Linked DNA regions of Homo sapiens: region 1 is linked to region 2. Evidence: fine-mapped QTL for protein levels in blood plasma. A gene starts in region 2. The other region holds a variant in brackets. All regions are shown on one strand. Distances are from middle to middle. Region 1 overlaps JRK (Jrk helix-turn-helix protein). Region 2 holds the start of SLURP1 (secreted LY6/PLAUR domain containing 1).

What was found. PIP is the posterior inclusion probability: the model's chance that the variant is causal. The UK Biobank Pharma Proteomics Project read protein levels with antibody pairs (Olink). The fine-mapping took linkage between variants from a reference panel, not from the people measured, so its PIPs are less certain.
Region 1: its variant is fine-mapped to the plasma level of the SLURP1 protein (UK Biobank, PIP above 0.99).

The regions. Positions count from the first base shown.
Region 1 is chr8:142,647,331-142,658,034 of GRCh38, reverse strand. JRK (Jrk helix-turn-helix protein) reads left to right here. Exons shown (of 2, transcript NM_003724.4): 2 at 1-575. Among named protein-coding and RNA genes, the nearest start is that of JRK, 17 kb to the left of the region's middle. The variant A/G (reference allele first, on the strand shown) is at 4,583.
Region 2 is chr8:142,737,296-142,747,999 of GRCh38, reverse strand. SLURP1 (secreted LY6/PLAUR domain containing 1) reads left to right here and starts at 5,594. Exons shown (of 3, transcript NM_020427.3): 1 at 5,594-5,672; 2 at 6,078-6,197; 3 at 6,724-7,051. The coding sequence starts at 5,615. The coding sequence ends at 6,857. RefSeq lists silencers at 8,397-8,476, 8,517-8,796 and an enhancer at 9,045-9,611.

The DNA.
Region 1 (10,704 bases), 90 kb after region 2:
CCCGGACAGAGGCAATAAATACGGAGCACCTCATGGCCAGGGCCTGGAGGATTCCCACCATACCCTACCCAGCGCCAATAACAGAGGGACCCTGGAGTTGTGTACGCAAGATAGCAGTTCAGTGCTTGCACACATACTAGTTGAGAAGGGAAATCAGGGCTAATGAAACAGCTCAACTGTCTGGCAGAGCCAGGCTCCTTCTGCCATGATACAGTTTGGATGTTTGTCCCTTTCTAATCTTATATGGAAATTTGATCCCCAGTGTTGAAGGTGGGGCCTGGTGGGAAATGTTCCTGTTATCGGGATGGATCCTTCATGAATAGCCTGGTGCCATCTTTGTGGTAACAAGTGAGTTCTCACTTGATTAGTTTCTGTGAGAACTGTTTGTTAAAAAGAGCCTGGTGGCACCTCCCTCCCTTCTTCCTCCTGCTCTTGCTATGTGATGCTGCTGCCCTTTGCCTTCCGTCATGAGTGGAAGCTCCCTGAAGCCCCCACCAGAAGCAAATGCTGGCACCATGCTGCTTGTACAGCCTGCAGAACTGTGAGCCAAATAAACCTCTTTTCTTTATAAATTACTCAGCCTCAGGTGTTACTTTATAACCATGCAAACAGACCAAGACATGCCATGTGTATTTCATGAAGGGAGCCACAGGGTTGAAGATGTTACAGGACACCTGCTCTAATCCCCACCACTGTGTCTGCCTCCCCACCACTGTGTCTGCCTCCAGAAAGCACACCACTTCTGCTCCTGTCCCTCGAGCCAGGTCCCAGTCATATGAGTACAACTAGTTACAAGGGGTCTGGGTAGCATGATTGTAGAGGATGGGTGAGTGAGTATAGGACTCATCTAGCAGTGCAAGTCAGCCCAGGCCTTGTGCCTTCATGCCCTCTCCAGCAATTATGTCTGAGCTCCTCCAGTTTCTGTAAGGAGAGAGCAGAGTTTCCAGCCTGCTTCAGGTCCGTGAAGTTCTGTGTGCTGCGCGGATGTGGCAGTGACTTCACTAGAGGAGTTGGCAATTCCTAAGCCCTCCCCAGAGGCTTCCACAGAGACATAATGTTGGAGAACTTCTGCCTCATGGCAGTGCTGGGCACAAGATAGATTTATGAGGTGAGCTGTGGGTGTGAGGGATGGAGGCAGGCAACAACTCTTAGTGGGCTTCACCTGTAGAGTGGGGAGTCTACACTGAGAGGCAAGCCCAGAACACCTGGTATTGCTGATTCCCCTCCCACCAAACGCTCAGCTCCCAAAGTTGGGGAGATACAGCGTTGTCCCCACCCCAAACGGCAGAGCCACTGGAGAAGCAGGCCATAGAACAGAGAGCTCCACATTCCTCCCCACAGGAACTGACTTCATTTGTAAGGATGTGAAGTTCAAGCCTAAGGGTGCTCTCAAAAACAGTGGAAGTGATGGAGAAAGGCAACTGTGGTAAATCAGTAGATTTATTGGAGATATATGCCAAAAATATAGTCTGGCTGGTAAAAGTATCACAAACACTAACTTCAGGAACTATCCCTTCAAAGGAGCCCAAATTTGATTGGATTAACCTGTGAAGCAGTTTAAACAGAACAATCAGCTGATCATTAGTGGAGCTTAACAGCTGGATGTGGTCAGGGAAAACAACAAAGAGCTTTGCAACACTTTCAAACCACTGTCATCCAGGGTGACTGAGGGCATAACCTAGGCTGTGCTCCTGAGGAGAAAAACTGAGATGCAGTCAGAGGCTCTGGGATGTGGGGTGGGAAATGGATGCCACTAAAATAGTCTAGCTGGTCACTAAGCAAAGAAAGTAGGAAAATAGTCTGAGATTGGGTTGGCTAGTATCCAGAATTGCTACAATAGGTTACCTAAGATGTCCACTCTTCAACAGATAATTATGAGGCATGCAAAGAAACAGGAAAGTATGGCCTATACACTGGGGAAAAAGGCAGGTAATAGAAACTACCTATGTAGAGTAAGATGCTGGATTTAAAAGAAAAAGGTTTCAAAGTGGCCATCATAAATATGGTCTGAGAACTAAAGGACATGATTGAAGAACTAAAGGTGGTAAAACTAAAGGAAGGGGTGAGCCAATATTGCCTCAAATGGAGATTAAGAAGGTAGAATTAGCGCAGATCCACAGTAGATTCTGATAAAATGTAAATGGTGATCCCTAGAACAACCACTAAAGAAATAATTTAGAAAATAGAGTGAAAAAATCATTAAATTAAAACGCTACATTGGAAAATACCCAGTGTAAAAGCAGCAAAGGAGGAAGAGAGGACCCAAGAAGACAGGAGGCAGAACGCGCTTAGTGGGACCTGTGCTGTCCACATTCTGTGGCACTTATCTAATCTTCCTGACACCTGGCTGGTCACTAGTGCCATCCCCATTGTACAGATGAGCAGTTGAGGCTCAGGAGCAGCAGGGATGGTCAGGGACACAGTTTGGAGTCCGGAGCCGTTTTACTCCACAGCCTGGGATCTCACTGCATCCCTTCCCCTGCCTGTTGCCTGTGATTCCCCGCTTTTCTTGGCCTCTGGAGACATCTGCCTTGGCTGTGTCTGCCAGCCTCCTGCTGTGCTGAGGTGGATGTGCCTAGGGTGCTGCTGTGTCCTGCTTTCCCTGGGCAGTCCTGGTGGCACCTGTTGTCCTGGAACAATTGCTAATAACACCCCTTTCACTCTCAAGAATGTCTGATTCGTGTGGGGCCACTCTGCAGGGCCCAACCTTCACACAGTGCCTAACACATGGTGTCTGTGGGGTGTCAGCTCTTCAGGGGCCCCAGGCCAGCGGTCACAGCAAGGTCACCACTAGAGGACATTGAATGGTGCCACCTCTGAAGTCAGTGCTGGTCCCCAGGGTCTCTGTGTGGGCAGTAACCTGGAGCAGCCCTTGCTGGGGAAGGAGAACTGGCACTACTAGGACCCATCTCAAGGGGGCATGCAAAGGCAGAGAGGGATCCAGCCTGGGGGTGGTCACCTGAGGGCAGCCCCCATGGTTCCAGCTGTGGCTCAAGAAGCCCTTGAAGCCGCCATAGGAGGCTGAGCAGGGGAGGCCTCCTCAAAGCCACCTTGGGGCAGGCAGAGCCTCAGAAGGGACCCCGAGGCTGGCAGGGCAAGGAGCTTCCGCAGCTGACCTCCAGAAGTGCAGCTCTCTGCTGAGAGAGGCACTTAGTTGGGAGGCCTAGGTCTTCTGCTTGCTCTTGGCCTCATCTTCACTGAGGAGGGCCTGGGGCAGCTCAAGGCTCTTGGCTGCAGCAAATCAGCACCCAGGAGGCTGTGCCCCTTGACCCTTGAGCTGGGGAGTGGCTGGGGGCTTGGGCAGGGCGCCTGGGCAGGACAGCATTAAGCAGGTGGCACCTGCACTGGCTGTGCCTGACTCTGGGGTGGGGAGGACTCCAGATGCCCAGTGAGAGCTGAGCCAGCCAGGGAGGTCAGGTGGGCTCTGCCAGCTGAGGAGGGCTGGTGGGAGTCTGTGCTCCTGAGCCCTGGGTACAGCCCTCTTCTTTGAATTGCCTGTTCTGGGGTAGCCCTGGGGGTAGGGTGACAGGATCCCACCAAGACACAGGGACCACATTGGCCTCCAGCCTGGGAGCCTCACAAACATTCCTTGCTCAGCAGAATCAGGCTGGACCCTTAGCAAGGAGTGGCTGGAGTCTGGCTGCAGAGGGAAGACATCAGCAGGGAGGGAGCCAGGGCCTGTCACATCTTTCCTCTGGCCATTGTCCTGGTCTTTGTAAGCCCAGAATCTCCCCTTCCCTGAAGGGAGGCCAGCACCCCAGGAGGGCAGCAGGTGTGCTGTGAGGGTTGGAGTAGTGTGAGAGGTCAGGGTACACTAGAATGGCCATGGACACCATGTGGGGGTGCTCTGGGCTGGGCCACAGAACAGTGTCCTTCCTGCTGCTCCTCCCCTGCAGCTTCCCCCGACCTTGTGGTTTATTTGGTTTGATACCAATCAGCAGACCCTGCAGGGTGGAGGCTCCCAGGCCTCTCAGTCCCACCACTCTCATGTGCCAGTCAGCCCTACTGTAACTGCCCAATGAGTACTTCTTGCCCACTGCCAAGATAGAGCCAGTTTACCAAGACAGGGGAATTGCAGTAGAGAAAGAGTTGAATATACATAGAGCCAGCTAAATGGGAGAGTGGAGTTTTCTTATTACTTAAATCAGCCTCCCCTAAAATTCAGAGGTGAGAATTTTTCAAGGACAGTTTGGTGGGCAGGGCCTAGGGAATGGATGCTGCTGATTGGCTAGGGATGCAATCATAGGGGTGTAGAAAAGGTCCTTGTGCACTGAGTCCACTTTTGGGTGAGAGCTACCAAGGAGCTGCTGGTCTGCTGGTCCCGGTAGAGCCATCTGGTGTCAGGAATGCAAAAGTGTGGCCAGGCACAGTGGCCCACACTTGTAATCCTAGCACTTTGGGAGGCTGAGGCAGGAGGAATGCTTGAGCCCAGGAGCTCGAGACCAGTCTGGGCAACATAGTGAGACCTCTTCTCTACAAAACATTAAAAAAAAAATAGCCAGGAGTGGTGGCACGTCCCTGTGGTCTCAGGTACTTGGGAGGCTGAGGCAGGAAGACTGCTTGAGCCCAGGAGGTCAAGGCC[A/G]CACTGTGCCATGATTCTGCCACTGCACTCCAGCCTGGGTGACAGAATGAGACCCTGTCTGAAAATACATCTTAAAAGTCCAATCCTAGGTTCTACAATAGTGATGTTATCTGCAGGAGTAATTGGGGAAGTTGAAAATCTTGTAACCTCTGGGACAAGAGTAATTGTTTATCCCTACATCTTAGCAGAATCCAGGCCCCTCTCATCCTCTTAACTTGGTGGCCTTTCATTAGTATTACGAGGGTGGCTTAGTCGTGGGAAGGGCTGTTATCATTTAAATTACAAACTAAATTTCTCCCAAAGTTAGCTTGGCCCACTCCCAGAAGTGATCAAGGGCAGTTTGGAGGTTAAAGGCAAGATGGAGTCAGTTAGGTCAGATCTCTTGCACTTAAAATTTTTGCAGAGGTCTCTTCACCATGGTCTGCCTGCTGATGGATGTGGCCCAAGCCAGGCCTGTGGGGAGCCGCTGCATATCCCTCTGCACCGTGGGGTACCTGGCCAGTCTGGGCCAGTACTGGGGCCTTCACAGAGGGGTGTAAAAAATGAATGAACATCATCAATTTTTGGAACCCTAGAAATGACGTTGAGCCTAGAAGGAAATGTGGCTGTGTGGCATAACCGTGCAGCATGCAGCTGCAGCTTCCACTTCTCCAGCTATAGGTCACCTCTCTTTCTCTTTTTTCTTGTTCTGTAAATTGATTATGTGAAAGGAAAATACACTGGGGCTCCCAAATCACTAAGCTAAAGGGAAAAGTCAAGCTGAGAACTGCTTAGAGCAGTTATTACTTAAATCAGCCTCCCCTAAAATTCAGAGGTGAGGATTTTTCAAGTTCGGTGGGGAGGGGCCTATGGAATGAGCCCCTCCCTGTCTCCTATTCAAAGTCACCCCTCTGCTCATTGAGATAAATGTATATCTGATTCCCTTCTTTGGAGAGGCTAATCAGAAACTCAAAAGAATGCAACCATTTGTCTCTTATCTACCTATGACCTGGAAGCCCCTGCCCCACTTTGAGTTGTCCCGCCTTTCCAGACTGAGCCAATGTTTATCTTACATATGTTGATTGATGTCTCATATCTCCCTAAAATGTAGAAAACCAAACTGTGGTCTGACCACCTTGGGCACATGTCAGGACCTCCTGAGGCTGTGTCATGGGCGTGTGTCCTCAACCTTGGCAAAATAAACTTTCTAAATTAACTGAAACTTGTCTCAGATTTTCTGGGTTCATATTTTGGTAATCACAAAGGGATTCTGAGTGGAGGTGCCTCTGACCTTTGAAAAAATCTCCTATGAGTGCTTAGTACCAGCTTGAGTTATCTTTATGGCTCAAACCAATAGGGCAATTTACTGAGGCCTGGAAGCACCCCCTCCAAAAAATCCCTGATCTCCCAAAATTTGGTTGAGATTTAATGTTTATGCTGTACAACTCCCACCACCCCCCCTTTTTTTGGAGTTTTACTTGTTTCCAACACAAGACAGGCAAGTTTTTTCCTGCTTCTATGATGATGGGAGGCAGGTAACTCCTTTATGGAGTTTGAGCTCACTTCCAACAGGGAAGATGAGGTTTTTTTTCCTGCTTCTAGGATGGTGGAGAGCAGTCTTCAGCCTGAGATCCATCCCTAGGTAAGTAACTGAATTGAGGTTTGTCTTGGCTAAAGTTAAAATTAACAGCCAGCTGGTCTTAATTTCTGCTTACTGTTAGAGCACTCAGTAATGATATAAGTTGTGCAATTGTTTGTTTTGCTTTGCTCTTTGTTGTTTTGTTGTTTGTTTCTGTTTTTGTTGTTTCAGTCTTTTTCCCATTGGGTTTGACCAATTCTATCTGACTTGATCAAATCTGAAGGAAAGTTTCAAATTATGGGGAACAAGGCCTCTGAAGTGGCTAAATTCCCACCAAAAAAAAAAAAAAAAAAAGATTGATTTTTGATTTTCATTACTTAAGGGGCTTTATTTACATAACAAGACCACTTTTTGCTAGCCAGGCCAAACTGAAAGCAATGGCTGTTACCCCACAGTGCAGTTCAATGCCTAGGGTTCTGCCTTCCTTTTTTTTTTTTTTCCAGCATGACAGCTGGGTTTGGTTCCTAAATCAAGTCCTTTCTGGTTTGATACTTGGTACTTCTGAAATAGCAGCAATTTGTCCTAGCTGCAATATGGTAATGAGATTTTAAAACTTTTTTTTTAAAGGAGCTCAATGGTTGAAAGTCAGATAAATTAAAGTTAACATCCAAAATGTGTGTATGTGTTTGTTTTTAAAGGACCTTCATGTTTTTGTTTTTGTTTTTTTCCTCTCTTAGAACCTTGTCTTTTTTTTGAACAAAGGTTTTTTTCTTCTCAGTTGACTCAATTCTAGTTTCTTCATTTACTTCTGCTGTCTCTCCTTTCTCTTGCACCCTCTGCTGCACGGGGGACCTAAAATAGTTTATATTATTTATAAATAGTGTGGAGTTCCTTAAAGAAACTCCTTAAAGAAAATGGAGAAGGTGCTAGACTCCCTTTGGGGGAGAAACCTCTGTTTTTCCTTATGGAACCCCAAGAATTTAAACAGACAAGTTTGTTTCAGTCCTTAAACCACTTAATTTTGTATTGTGTACCTGATTTTTTTAACTAAAATAGTTATTGCAACAGAGACTACCCTTGTTTTTTAAGGAAGACTGTAGTTTAGACACTTAGAAATGTGTTTGTATTAGTCCATTTTCACGCTCCTGATAAAGACATGCCCGAAACTGGGCAATTTACAAAAGAAAGAGGTTTCATGGACTTACAGTTTGGCATCGCTGGGGAGCCCTCATGATGATGGTGGAAGGCAAGGAGGAGCAAGTCACATCTTACATGGATGGCAGCAGGCAAAGAGAGTTTGTGCAGAGAAACTCCCATCTTTAAAACCATCAGATCTCTGCAGACTTATTCACTATCATGAAAACAAGACAGGAAAGACTGACTTTATGATTCAATTACCTCCCACTGGGTTCCTCCAACGACATGTGGGAATTGTGGGAGTTACAATTCAAGGTGAGATTTTGGTAGGACACAGAGCCAAACCATATCATTCCACCCCCGGCCCCTCCCAAATCTCATGTCCTCACATTTTGAAACCAATCATGCCTTTCCAACAGTCTCCCAGAGTCTTAACTCACTTCAGCATTAACTCAAAACTCCACAGTCCAAAGTCTCATCTGAGACAAAGCAAGTCCCTTCTGCCTATGAGCCTGTAAAATCAAAAGCAAGTGAGTTACTTCCTAGATACAATGGGGGTACATGCATTGGGTAAATACAGCCATTTCAAATGGGAGAAATTGGCCAAAACAAAGGGGCCACAGGCCCCATGCAAGTCTGAAATCCAGCAGTGCAGTCAAATCTTAAAGCTCCAAAATGATCTCCTTTGACTCCATGTTTCACATCCAGGTCACACTGGTGCAAGAGGTGGTTTCCTGTGGTCTTGGGCAGCTCCGCCCCTGTGGTTTTACAGGGAACAGCTTTCCTCCTGGCTGCTTTCACAGACTGGTATTGAGTGTCTGTGTCTTTTCCAGGCACACGGTGCAAGCTGTTTGTGGATCTACCATTCTGGGGTTTAGAGGTCAGTGGCCATCTTCTCACAGCTCCACTAGGCAGTGCCCCAGTGGGGACTGTGTGTGGGGGCTCCCACCCCACATTTTCGTTCCACACTGTGCTAGCAGAGGTTCTCCATGAGGGTCCTGCCCCTGCAGCAAACTTCTTCCTGGACATCCAGTCGTTTCCATACACCCTCTGAAACCTAGGTGGAGGTTCCCAAACTTCAATTCTGGACTTCTGTGCACTCACAGGGTCAACAGCATGTGGAAGCTGCCAAGGCTTGGGGCTTGCATCCTCTGAAGCAGTTTACAAAATAAAGAGGTTTAATGGAGTTACAGTTCCACGTAGCTGGGAGTGCCTCACAATCATGGGGGAATGGAACGAGGAGCAAGTCACGTCTTACATGGATAGCAGCAGGCAAAGAGAAAGATAACATGTGCAGGGGAACTTCTCTTCAAAAAACCATCAGGTCTTGTGAGACTTACTTACTCTCAGGAGAAAAGCATGGGAAAGACTTTCCCCCATGATACAATTACCTCCCACTGGGTCCCTCCCACAACACGTGGGAATTCACGATGAGTTTTGGGTGGGGACACAGCCAAACCCTATCATTCTGCCCTTGGCCCCTCCCAAATCTCATGTCCTTACATTTCAAAACCAATCATGCCTTCCTAACAGTCTCCCGCAGTCTTAATTCATTTCAACATTAACTCAAAAGTCAACAGTCCAGTCTCTTCTGAGACAAGGAAAGTTCCTCCCACCTACGAGCCTGTAAAATCAAAAGCAAGTTAGTTACTTCCTAGATACAATGGGGGTACATGCATTGGGTAAATACAGCCATTTCAAATGGGAGAAATTGGCTGAAACAGGCCCTATGCAAGTTTGAAATCCAGCGGGGTGGTCAAATCTTAAAGCTCCAAAATGATCTCCTTTGACTCCATTTCTCACATCCAGGTCATGCTGATGCAAGAGGTGGGTTCCCATGGTCTTGGGCAGCTCCACCCTTGTGGCTTTGCAGGGTACAGCCTCCCTCCCAGCTGCCTTCATGGGCTGGTGTTGAGTGTCTGTGGCTTTTCCAGGTGCACAGTGCAAGCTGTCAGTGGATCTACCATTCTGGGGTCTGGAGGATGGTGGCCCTCTTCTCACAGGTCCACTAGTGGTGATGCCCCAGTAGGGACTCTGCATGGGGGCTCTGACCCCACATTTCCCTTCCACACTGCCCTAGCAGAGGGTCTCCTGAGGGCCCCACCCCTGCAGCAAACTTCTGCCTGGGCATCCAGGCATTTCCATACATCTGAAATGTAGGCAGAGGTTCCCAAACTTCAATTCTTGACTTCTGTGGACTCACAGGCTCAACACCATGTGGAAACTGCCAAGGCTTGGGACTTGCACACTCTGAAGCCATGACCTGAGCTCTATGTTGGCCCCTCTCAGCCATGGCTGGAGTGGCTGGGATGCAGGGCACCAAGTCCCTAGGCTGCACACAGTATGGCAACCCTGGGCCTGGCCCATGAAACCACTTTTTCCCCTAGGCCTTTGGGCATGTGATGGGAGGGGCTGCTGTGAAGACCTCTGACATGCCCTGGAGACATTTTCCCCATTGTCTTGGGGATTAACATTCAGCTCCTTGTTACTTATGCAAATTTCTGCAGCTGGCTTGAATTTCTCCTCAGAAAATGGCATTTTCTTTTCTATCACATTGTCAGGTTGCAAATTTTCCAAACTTTTATGCTCTCTTTCCCTTATAAAACTGAACGCCTTTAACAGCACCCAAGTCACCTCTTGAATGCTTTGCTGCTTAGAAATTTCTTCTGCCAGATATCCTAAATCATCTCTCTCAAGTTCAGAATTCGTCACATCTCCAGGGCAGGGGCAGAATGCCACCAGTCTCTTTGCTAAAATATAACAAGAGTCACTTTACTCCAGTTCCCAACTAGCTCCTCATTTTCATCTGAGACCACCTCAGCCTGGACTTTATTGTCCGTATTACTATCAGCATTTTGGGCAAAGCCATTCAGCAAGTGTCTAGGAAGTTCCAAACTTTCCCACGTTTCCCTGGCTGCTTCTGAGCCCTCCAAACTGTTCCAACCCCTGCCTTTTACGCAGTCCAAAGTTGCTTCCACATTTTCAGGTATCTTTTCAGCAGTGTCCCACTCTACTGGTACCAATTTACTGTATTAGTCCATTTTCATGCTGCTGATAAAGACATACCCCAGACTGGGCAATTTATAAATGGAAGAAGTTTAATGGACTTACAGCTCCACATGGCTGGGGAGGCCTCACAATCATGGTGGGAGACAAGGAGGAGCAAGTCATGTGTGACATGGATGGCATCAGGCAAAGAGAGAGAGCTTGTGCAGGGAAACTCCCATTTTTAAAACCATCAAATCTCATGAGAGTTACTATCACAAGAACAGCATGGGAAAGACGTGCCTCATGATTCAATTACCTCCCACCAGGTTCCTCCCATAACATGTGGGAATTGTGGAAGTTGCAATTCAAGATGAGATTTGGGTGAGGACATAGCCAAACCTATCAAAATTTGGTTGAGATTTAACATTTATTTTGCTGT
Region 2 (10,704 bases):
CGTCCTCTTTTTCTCTTCTACTCCTGACTTCCCCAAGGCCATCTGCTGCGACCTTCCAGAACAGGATGAACACCTGCCACACTTCCTCAGGGAGCAGGGCCCAGCCCACCCCAGGGCAGGGATGTCTGGATCTCAAATGCAGACAATACAGTCAGGACAAGGCTGGAGCCCAGCACTAACCTTCAAGAGGACAAAGCACCCTCAGGACCTCAGCCACCACCTCCCATAACTCAGCATTAGCAATCCCCCCACCCCACTGCCAGGACATCTTCCTCGGCCTCAGCCCTGTGCCCACTGTCATCATGCCATCTAAGCCACCAGCCAATGTCCCTGGGTAGCTATCACAGCCACCTCCAGCTCCTTGCCTCCCCCTCTCTACCCTAGCCCACTGTTAAATCAGCAGCCAAACCTGAGAGCTCACTCAGTGCCTGTCTATGCAAAAAACCTCAATCCTCCAAGGAACTTGACTAGCTATCAGACTCGCCTGTGAGATGTAATTGGCTCTGCAGCCTGGATACAGGGTCAGAACCAAGGCTGCGGGTGTCAGACTGGCAAGTCTGAGCTCCCATGGAAGAAGGCCTGAAACAGGTCTGTCCCAGTGGGGCAGGTACTGCCCTGAGAAGGAGTAAGATTCCCATTCCCAGGGGTGTCCAAACCTGTGCTAAGTTTTGTCAGAGAGGCTGCAAGAGCATTTGTACCCTGGGGAGAAGTCAACCTGAATGCCCACAAATACCCATCCTGGGTCACCTTGGAAGAAACAACATTAAGCCTGTCTTTAACTACTCATCCATCCATCCATTCATCCATCCATCCATCCATCCATCCATCCATCCCTCCTCCACCCACCCACTCATCCATCCATCTCCCCTTTTAGCCATACATTATTCACCTATCCATCCTTCTACCCATATGCCCACCCACCCATCCATCACTCTCTCCATCCATCCACCCATCCCCTATCCATTTATCTATCCATCCATCCATTCACTCATCCATCCACCATCCATCCATCCACTCATCCATCCACCCATCCATCCGTCTTCTGTCCAGTCTCCATTCATTCACTCATCCATTCATCCCCCATCCATCGACCCATCCACCCACCCCTGCATCTATCCCTCTTCTGTCCCCCATCCATCCACCCACCCATCCATCCACTCACCCATCCATCCATGCATGCACCCACCCATTCATCCATCCATCCCCCATCCATCCACCCATGCACCTACCCATTCATCCATCTATCCCCCTTCCATCTCCCCATCCATCCATCCATCCATCCTCCATCCATCCCCCATCTATCTATCCACCCATCCATCCATCCATCCATCCTCCAGCAAATGCTGCTCAACAGTCAGCATGGTCAGACCCAGGCTGTGGGAGAAGGATTCTTAGAGGAATGGAAACATGTTCTACTTGAGGAGATGACAGTCCAGTAGTCCCTCAGGCCAGCCCAGACAGGGCAAGCATCAAACACCAACAGTGGTGGTGGGGCTTTTTGACTGCATGCTGAAGGCAGTGGAGAGCCAGGGAGCGTTTCTGGGAAGAGCAGTGCCATAAGCCAGTTTGCATTTTAGCTGGTCTCTCTGAGTGGAGGGTGGAGAGTGTAGCCAAGGAGAAAGGGCCAGGCCTCTGGGAAAGAGACCGGGCTGACATGGCAGATAGCTGGGGCTTGGTGTGAACTGGCTCAGTGCTGCAGGCCTATCATGGATGAGAACTCTGGGGTTTGGGGGATTGAGCTGCCTTCAAAAAACCTGGTCTCCTGGTTCCACATGTCGGGAAAAGGTGTGGATTCATGGAGAGGCAGGAGGAGGGGAGGGCAGTCACCTAACTAGGGCATAAATTCTCCCTGCTTGAGTTGTGTCTGACACAGTGCTGCTTTTCCACCTGCCAATAGGGTGCTGGGCTCAGGGATGGGCCAAGTTAGTGCCCACTCTTCCCACACAGCGGAAAGGCTGCCTGTGCCCCTCTGCTGGCTGCTACTCCCACCCAGAGCACCCTCTGAGGACTTCCCTCCCTTTCAAAGCCAATGTGAGCAGCAGCTGAGAGCAGTACCCCTGTCCTCAGCATCCGCCCACCTCTGCCCCAAGTACACCTGCACTGTGATCAGCACAGAGCTGAGTTGAAAGCTTGATGGAGGCCCATCCTTTGCCAGATACTTGCTAGTTTTCACAACCACCCTCTGGCAGATGTTCCCCTGACCAGTTTATAGATGAAAGAACGTGGGGTGAGAGTCCTTGTGAGTAGACATGGGCTTCACGGGAGGCCGGGTGGAGCTCAGGCTCCAGAACCGGACAGTCTCTGACTCCTCTCGAAACACCTGGGTGTGTCTGTGGACCAAGCCCTGGGGAGAGGCTGCTCTTGGTTGCCATCTGTGCACCAACCCATGTCAGCCCCTTTGTTTGATTTGCAGTAACTACGCCCTCCCTTGGCTTTCTTGCAACCATCCCACAGCCTCACACAACTCACCTCAGCCCACAAGGCCAGGTCACTTCAGCTTTCACAACTACAAACAGAAAACCAAAGACTGGAAGGAAAAAGGGGCCACACCAAGGCCACAAATGGAGAGAGCAGTAGGCCAAGACCAGAACCCAGGACTCCTGGTGCCAGCCCAGAGCTCCTTCCAGCATCGAATTCTGCCTCGGAAGGGCCCATTCACTACACATTTGTCTGCCGCCACTTTTATAGCCACCCATCCCTCCATCCCTGAATTCTCCCATCCATTCATTCATTTTTTCACACATCAACTCTCTCAAATGTCATTCATTTAATAATCCATCCACCCATCTTGCCCCCATTCATCCATCCATCCTCCACCCACCTATCCACCCATCCTCCATCCATCCATCCTTCTGAAATCCATCCATCCACACATCTATCCAACATCCATCCATGCATCCACCCACCCATCCTCTGCCCATCCACCCATCCGTCCCCATCCATCCACTCATCCTCCCCTCATCCCCCACGCATCCACCCATCCATCCTCCACCCATTCCCCATCCATCCCCCACCCATCCACCCATCCATCCCCCACTTATCCATCTACCCATCCATCCACCCATCCATCCATCTATCCATCCCCCACCCATCCTCCATTCATCCCCCACCCATCCATCTATCCATCCCCCACCCATCCATCTATCCATCCCCCACCCATCCACCCATATATCCTCCACCCATTCCCCATCCATCCCCCATCCATCCCATATTCATCCCTCACTCATCCATCTACCCATCCATCCACCCATCCATCCATCCACCCATCCATCCATCTATCCATCCCCCACCCATCCTCCACTCATCCCCCACCCGTCCACCCATACATCCTCCACCCATTCCCCATCCATCCCCCATCCATCCCATATTCATCCTCCACTTATCCATCTACCCATCCATCCACCCATCCATCCATCCACCCATCCATCCATCTATCCATCTACCCATCCAGCCACCTATCCATCCCACACTCATCCTCCACTCATCCCCCACCCATCCACCCATACATCCTCCACCCATTTCCCATCCATCCCCCATCTATCCACCCATCCATCCATCTATCCATCCCATATTCATCCCCCACTCATCCATCCACCCATCCATCCACCCATCCTCCACTCATCCCCCACCCATCCACCCATATATCCTTCACCCATTTCCCATTCATCCCCCATCCATCCATCCAATCCATCCCCCATCCATTCCATATTCATCCCCCACTCATCCATCTACCCATCCATCCATCTATCCATCCATCCATCTATCCATCCATCCCCCACCCATCCTCTATTCATCCCCTACCCATCCACCCATACATCCTCCACCCATTTCCTATCCATCCCCCATCCATCCACCCATCCATCCATCTATCCATCTACCCATCCAGCCATCTATCCATCCCCCACTCATCCTCCACTCATCCCCCACCCATCCACCCATACATCCTCCACCCATTCCCCATCCATCCCTCATCCATTCCATATTCATCCCCCACTCATCCATCCACCCATCCATCCACCCATCCATCCATCTATCCATCCATCCCCCACCCATCCTTCATTCATCCCTGACCCATCCACCCATACATCCTCCACCCATTTCCCATCCATCTCCCACCATCCACCCATCCATCCCATATTCATCCCCCACTCATCAGCTACCCATCCATCCACCCATCCATCCATCCACCCAACCATCCCCAACCCATCCTCCATTCATCCCCCACCCATCCACCCATCCATCCTCCACCCATTTCCCATCCATCCCCCATCCATCCAACCATCCATCCCCCATCCATCCCATATTCATCCCCCACTCATCCATCTACCCATCCATCCACCCATCCATCCATCCATCCACCTATCCATCCATCTATGCATCCATCCCCCACCCATCCTCCATTCATCCCCAACTTATCCACCCATACATCCTTCACCCATTTCCTATCCATCTCTTACCATCCATCCATCCATCCCATATTCATCCCCCACTAATCCATCTACCCATCCATCCACCCATCCACTCATGCATCCACCCATCCATCTCCCATTCATTTACCCATCCATCCCCCACCCATCTATCCATCCATCCCCTATCCATCGCCTATTCATCCCCCATTCATCCATCCCCCATCCATCCATCCATCAACTCATCCATCTATACAACCACCCATTGGGACATCACAGGACAGAGAAACCAGAGAGGCTGGTATACCTGGAAGGACTGTGGAGAGGGGCACCTTAGTGGGTCTCACAGCATGGGGAAGATGTGGGACATCAGATGGGAGACCAGGCAATGTGGTCATTGAGCGGTATGGCATAGGCAGGCATGCGTGTGGAACAGGGTGTCGTGGGGGGCACGCAGTAAAGAGCAGACAACACAGTCAGGCCAGGAGGCTGGAGGGTGAGCAGAACCTTATTGTCAGGCGCCTAAAATCAAGAAACTCAGGTTTGGTCTAAAGGCCATTAGTGGGAAGGGGCTGGCAGTGATGAGGGGCCACTCCTGGGCCCAACCTTGTCAGCCTGAGAGTGGTCTAGCTGGCCCATGCTACCCTCACCTGACACCTGCTTCCTACCTCTGGTTTCTACTTTGCAGGTGTGTATCAGGTGTACACAGACCAGGTAGAGGTCTGTGGAGAGGGCTGCAGGCCAGGCTGCAGGGAAGGGGTGCCAGGCGGGGCTAGAGCAACAAGGGCAGAGGCTACACTGAACCTGGGTCTTAAGGGTCCCCCAGGCTGGGGCTGGGTGGCCTATGTGAACCCCAGAGGCACAGCCAGGACATGGGGGCTCATCAGAGGGGCAGTCTGAGCTCAGCAGGAAAGGCCTTCTCTGTCAGAGCTGTCCCAGGACCACTGGACATGGCTGAGGAACAGTGAGTTCCCCAGTGTTGGAGGTGTGCAAGCAGAGGCCTGGCCATCGTCCTCAGACAGAGCTCCCAGATCCAGCTCCCTGCCCGTCTGCCATGTTCCTGCCAGCTGCCTCCCCACTGGGCCCTTTACCACGTTCCTGACTCACACGGCCGGTTCTGCCACCGCCCAGAAGCCGGTGCCCAAGGGCCTGGGTATAAATCCTTGATGTGAGGCTGGCTACCTCTCATCACTTCTGAGCACGGAGCAATGGCCTCTCGCTGGGCTGTGCAGCTGCTGCTCGTGGCAGCCTGGAGCATGGGCTGTGGTGAGTGGGCCGCAGGCTGGTGGGGACCCTGCCTCTGAGCTTGTCTGCCCACCTCCTAGGGGGATGGGGCTGTTGGGGGTGCTTTGTGGCTGAGAGCCTCCTTAGGCCTCCATGAGGCTCACCCTCCTCATTCTCAGTGAGCCTCCTGGGTCCCAGAGCCCAGCTTCACCCTGGGACAGGGGTCACGGCTCCACTCTGCAGGAAGGGAGACTGAGGCTTGGTGGAGGGATGCAGCATTCAAGTCTGTGGCTCAGCTCAGTTAGAGAAAGCTGCCAGAGAGGCCCCTTGAAGGGCTGCCCGGGGCCTTGAAAGATGTCAGCGAGACTCCTTCAGCCCCTGCCTCCTGGTTCCAGGATGAGGCCACCGAGGTCAGGTGATGAGGTTCTGCCCCCATCCCTCACCCAGGTGAGGCCCTCAAGTGCTACACCTGCAAGGAGCCCATGACCAGTGCTTCCTGCAGGACCATTACCCGCTGCAAGCCAGAGGACACAGCCTGCATGACCACGCTGGTGACGGTGGAGGCAGGTGAGGCCAGGCCCCACGGCAGCCCTGGGTGCACTGGAGTCAGGGCCACCTCCCCCAAGTGCCTCCCTCCTTTGCTGGTGCTCCTCCCGGCCCAAAAGGCAGCAGGTGGGATGGGCAGAACAGGCTGCCACACCTTGGCAGGGGTGCCTTCCACGAGGGTGGCACAGCCCCCTCAGAGACCCAGTCCTGGGGCACCAGGCGCTGGAGGTGGGTGGGGCTTAATGGCCGGGGTACCCTGGGGGGCTCAAACCCCAGCTCTGACACAGACCCACTGGGTGGTGTTGCCACAGCCTCTGGGCTCGGGCTCCCATCTCAGCGCAGGCACTTCAGAGGTCTGACAAGGCCTAATAATTCATGAACAGGTCACAGTCAGAGGAGGGCTGGGCCCTGGGTGGCTTCACAGATGTGGACTATTGGGAACAGGGATCACAGGGAGGGTGAGGTCAGGCGACGGCGGCTGGGAGCAGTGCAGCAGCAGGCAGGCGCTGCAGGGGAGTGAGGGTTCTGACACTGGCCCACCCTGCAGAGTACCCCTTCAACCAGAGCCCCGTGGTGACCCGCTCCTGCTCCAGCTCCTGTGTGGCCACCGACCCCGACAGCATCGGGGCCGCCCACCTGATCTTCTGCTGCTTCCGAGACCTCTGCAACTCGGAACTCTGAACCCAGGGCGGCAGGGCGGAAGGTGCTCCTCAGGCACCTCCTCTCTGACGGGGCCTGGCTCCACCTGTGATCACCTCCCCCTGCTTCCTGCTGCTGTGGCACAGCTCACTCATGGGGTCTGAGGGGAGAGAAGCACACCAGGGGCGCCCTCTGCCTTCCATACCCCACGCTTATAAAACATAACTAAGCCAAGAGTGGACATGACTTTTGTCCTTCCTGGGCACTGACACCCTACAGAACTGGCCTTCAGGAGAGCCAGGCTGAAGGACAGCACATTCTAGGCACCTGCTCCTCCCTCTCACCCAGAGCCTCTGTGACCCATTTCACAGATAGGAAAACAGAGACTTAGGGGAAGAAATGCCTCCTGGGCCCCTTTCCTGATGCAAACTAGCCTGGCATCTCAGACCAGGACCTGTACCCTAGCCCAGGGAACATCTCCCGCTAAGAATCTCCCCTGTAAACCCTGGAGACATCGCTCCCACCCTAGAGAGGGAAGGAAGCTCAGAGTTGGCATCCACTTTCCTCCAAGGGTGGATACATCTGGCTCTGCCTGCCCAGCCCAAGGGGTCTTCCTGGGTGTGTGCACCTGGGCCTGCTGGTACCACACAGCTCCACGGTTTCAGTCACCTCCTCTGACAACTGCCCACTGTCCCCTTGGGACAGCTGAGATTAGCGGAGGAGCCCCGGGTTCTCAGGACCCAGGAGACCTGACTTCCAGGCTCGCTTCCCCCTCTTCCTGGCCCTGGCTGTCCCATCACAGTCACAGTGCTCTGTGCCACTGTCACCCCTGTCGGCAGGTGGGCAGAGCCAACGGGGAGCACGGGCTGCTGTGGGCCTGAGCCACCCCTGGACACTGCCCCTCTCCAGGCCCCAGTCCCCTGGTGTCTCCTGGGCTGCACACCATCTAAGCGCTGCCCAGCTAGGTCTTGGGTTCTAAGGCCCCACACATCAGCTGGGTCACGCCCGTGGGGTCTTGTGGGCACCTGTGCCTGCTGGGGTGGGAGCGGTATGCAGCAGGCTGTGGTCAGACCAGCTGGGCATACCCGAGGAGCATGCGGGAGTAACCAGGGCAGTGGCGGGGGTCGCCTAGGACCCCTGTGAGAGCCCACCTCTGTCTATGAAGGGCCCAGATGTCAGAACCCACCCCCTACCTCTACGCCCTCCCAGAAATACCAGGAATTAAATGCTGTCCCTGGGGAGCAGCCCCGACCAGAGAAAGCTGCCAGAGAGGCCCCCTTGAAGGGCTACCCCGGGCCTCCCCGTTGGCCAGCACCGGGCCGGCGGCGTGGCTTCCGGTTAGGGCCCGTCCCCTGGGTCATGGCCGGACCTCCAAGGGCCTCACCCGGGCCTCGATTGGAGCCAAGGGGGCAGGGCCTTGGCCTCACCAGGGGGACGGAGCAAGAAGTCGCCGCATCTCTGGCAGCGTCCCCAGCGGCACAATGGGGATGAGGCCTCCAGGCTCTTTGGGAGCGCAGTGGTGAAGGCTCAGCAGGTGCCCCTATCCCTGGGAGGGCACCTGCGAGGGGCCCCCGATGCTGAGCCCGCACGGCCAGCAGAGGGCGCGCGCCCGAGTCCCGGAACCCGCGCCAGGAAGACTCGTCCCAGAGCGCGCACCGCGAGCACGCGGCGACCCTGTGCGCTCTGCCCGGAACCTGCACTGCGCGCGCAGCTGGGCCGCCTGGACCGTAGGGGTCCGCAGCACAGAGTTCAGAGAGCCCTGGCCCTCTCGGCCGGCCTGGAGGACGCCCACCTGCCCTGCCTGTCGCCGCGACCCTCCCAGGAAATGCGTGGGGAGGCCACGGCCAGGGAGGGACCTCGGGAGGGCGCGCCCACGGGGTGGGGCTCGCGGAGGCCAGGCGCTCACCACCCGGGCGCGCGGGGTCTAGGGAGGTGAGTGGGCGTCGCATCCGTGACCGTCGCAGGACGTGGGTAAAGCTGGCGGGGAAGCAGCCAGCCGCCAAGAGGTGGCGGTGGAGGGGAGGGAGAAGGGCGCCCACCCGTGCCGCTAGGCCCTACTGCGCGGAGGGGAAGCAGAGGCCCTTCTGAACCCCACTACCGCGGAGAGGTCAGACCAGCCAGCGCTAGTCTTCCGCAGCTTTAAGAAATCTCTAAAGGAGAGGGGTGTGCAGACCGCAGGGCGTCCCTCCCCGCCCTCAGGAGCAAGACCCTCCACCTCCCCAAGGGTGCCCCCAACTCGCAGGTGTCCAGAGGGGAAGTCATGCGGGGAGCGGCGGCCTGGGCCTGGGACGAATCAGCCCCTTTGGCCTGCCTCGTTGAGCCCCTGGCGGCCATACTGGGAATTCCCTGCCCTAGTCTGTTTCCCTATCCATGAGGTGGGCGATGGTCCTGCTGTCCCAGAATTCCGGACACCAGGCACAGTAGAACTCCACTCAGCAAGGCCTCAGATGTGGGGATCTGTGTCCCTGGGCCCTGAGGGGACACAACAGTGGCCAGTCAGCTGACTGAGCCCAGAGGCGGTGGCTGGATGCTGAGACTGAGCAGGCAACTGACCTAGGGTGAGCCCCGGGGACACCCACCAAAGCAGTCGTGACTCTGTCCACCTGGCCATCAGAGGGCACAGTGCCTCCTCCCCCAGGACGACGGACCCATGCACAGCCACCACCCCAGGACCTCCGGACACACTCCCATACCCTGTACCTGTCCCTTCTTCACCAGCATCCACCAAGGGCTTCCTGGGCCCGACACCTGGACACTGTGCAGACACCTCCGGGGGTGGGGGCGGCTGGGGCAGAAATTCTGCAGCTGTTGGCCTTGGGGGAAGGACGCGGGCCGAAGCAGTTGCTGCCCTCTAACTTCTCCGAGTGGCAGGCTCACAGGAGCAGAGTGGGCTCCAGTGGCTCCGCCAGGACAAGGCACTGGTTCACTTCCAATCCCAGCCACCCATTCCCTGACCCGGGCCAGTCCTGTCGTCAGCCCGTCCTCCAAAAACAAGACCAAGAGAGGGCCCTGCTGGCTCAAACCTTCCTCTGAGCCAGCCTATGACAGCCCAGGGTGTTCAGCTTCTGCATGGAGAGAGAAGCCCCAGAGGCTTGCGGGTGCTGCCCATTCAACCACCTTGAAGCTTGCCCGTTGCCTGCGTGCACGTGCGCACACACACACACACACACACAAATGCACACAGGCACGCACATCCATATGCGCACTGGATACACTCATTCCTAGTCCAGTCACTGAGCCCTACTCCCTATCCAGGCCAATGTGCCTTCCACGACCCAGAGGTAGCTGCTGAGCCAGGGACCGCAGTGGCATCATCACATGGTGCCCTCCCAAGGCCCAGGCACCCTGTCCTGTGGCCCCCGCCCTGCTCCAGGGCTCAGGCAGATGGTCAGGACCATCAGCTGGACGGCATCCCTACAGCTTCATCTGCAGCCCCACTGGGAAGCTTGTCTGGCAACACTCAGCTCACACACCTGTGGCGACCCCACGAGCCACCTCCCCCAAGGACCCCAGAGAAAGCACAGAGGCTTCTGGCCAACCAGTCTGGCTACAGACCCCAGATTTGCTGAGCAAGTTTGCTTCCCCTCCCCAGCCCTACTGCCCCATCACTAAATGCCGGTTTCATAGCTGTTTCCAACTGCCCACTCCTTCCCTGGCCCTCAGAGCCTTCTGGACCCTCCCAGGAAGGTGGTCACAGCATGGACGTGGCCACACCCCGCCTCACTCAACTTTATGTCCCGGAGGGTCCCACTTCTCCCCACCCCTTTTGAAGGGCCTGCAGAACAGCCCCCATGCTCTCTCTGCCTCCTGTCCACCCACCAGTCCATTGACCTCTGCCCCCAATGGCTACCAGCACCCTGCCCGAGGCTCTGGGAGCCTGGAGGGCCAG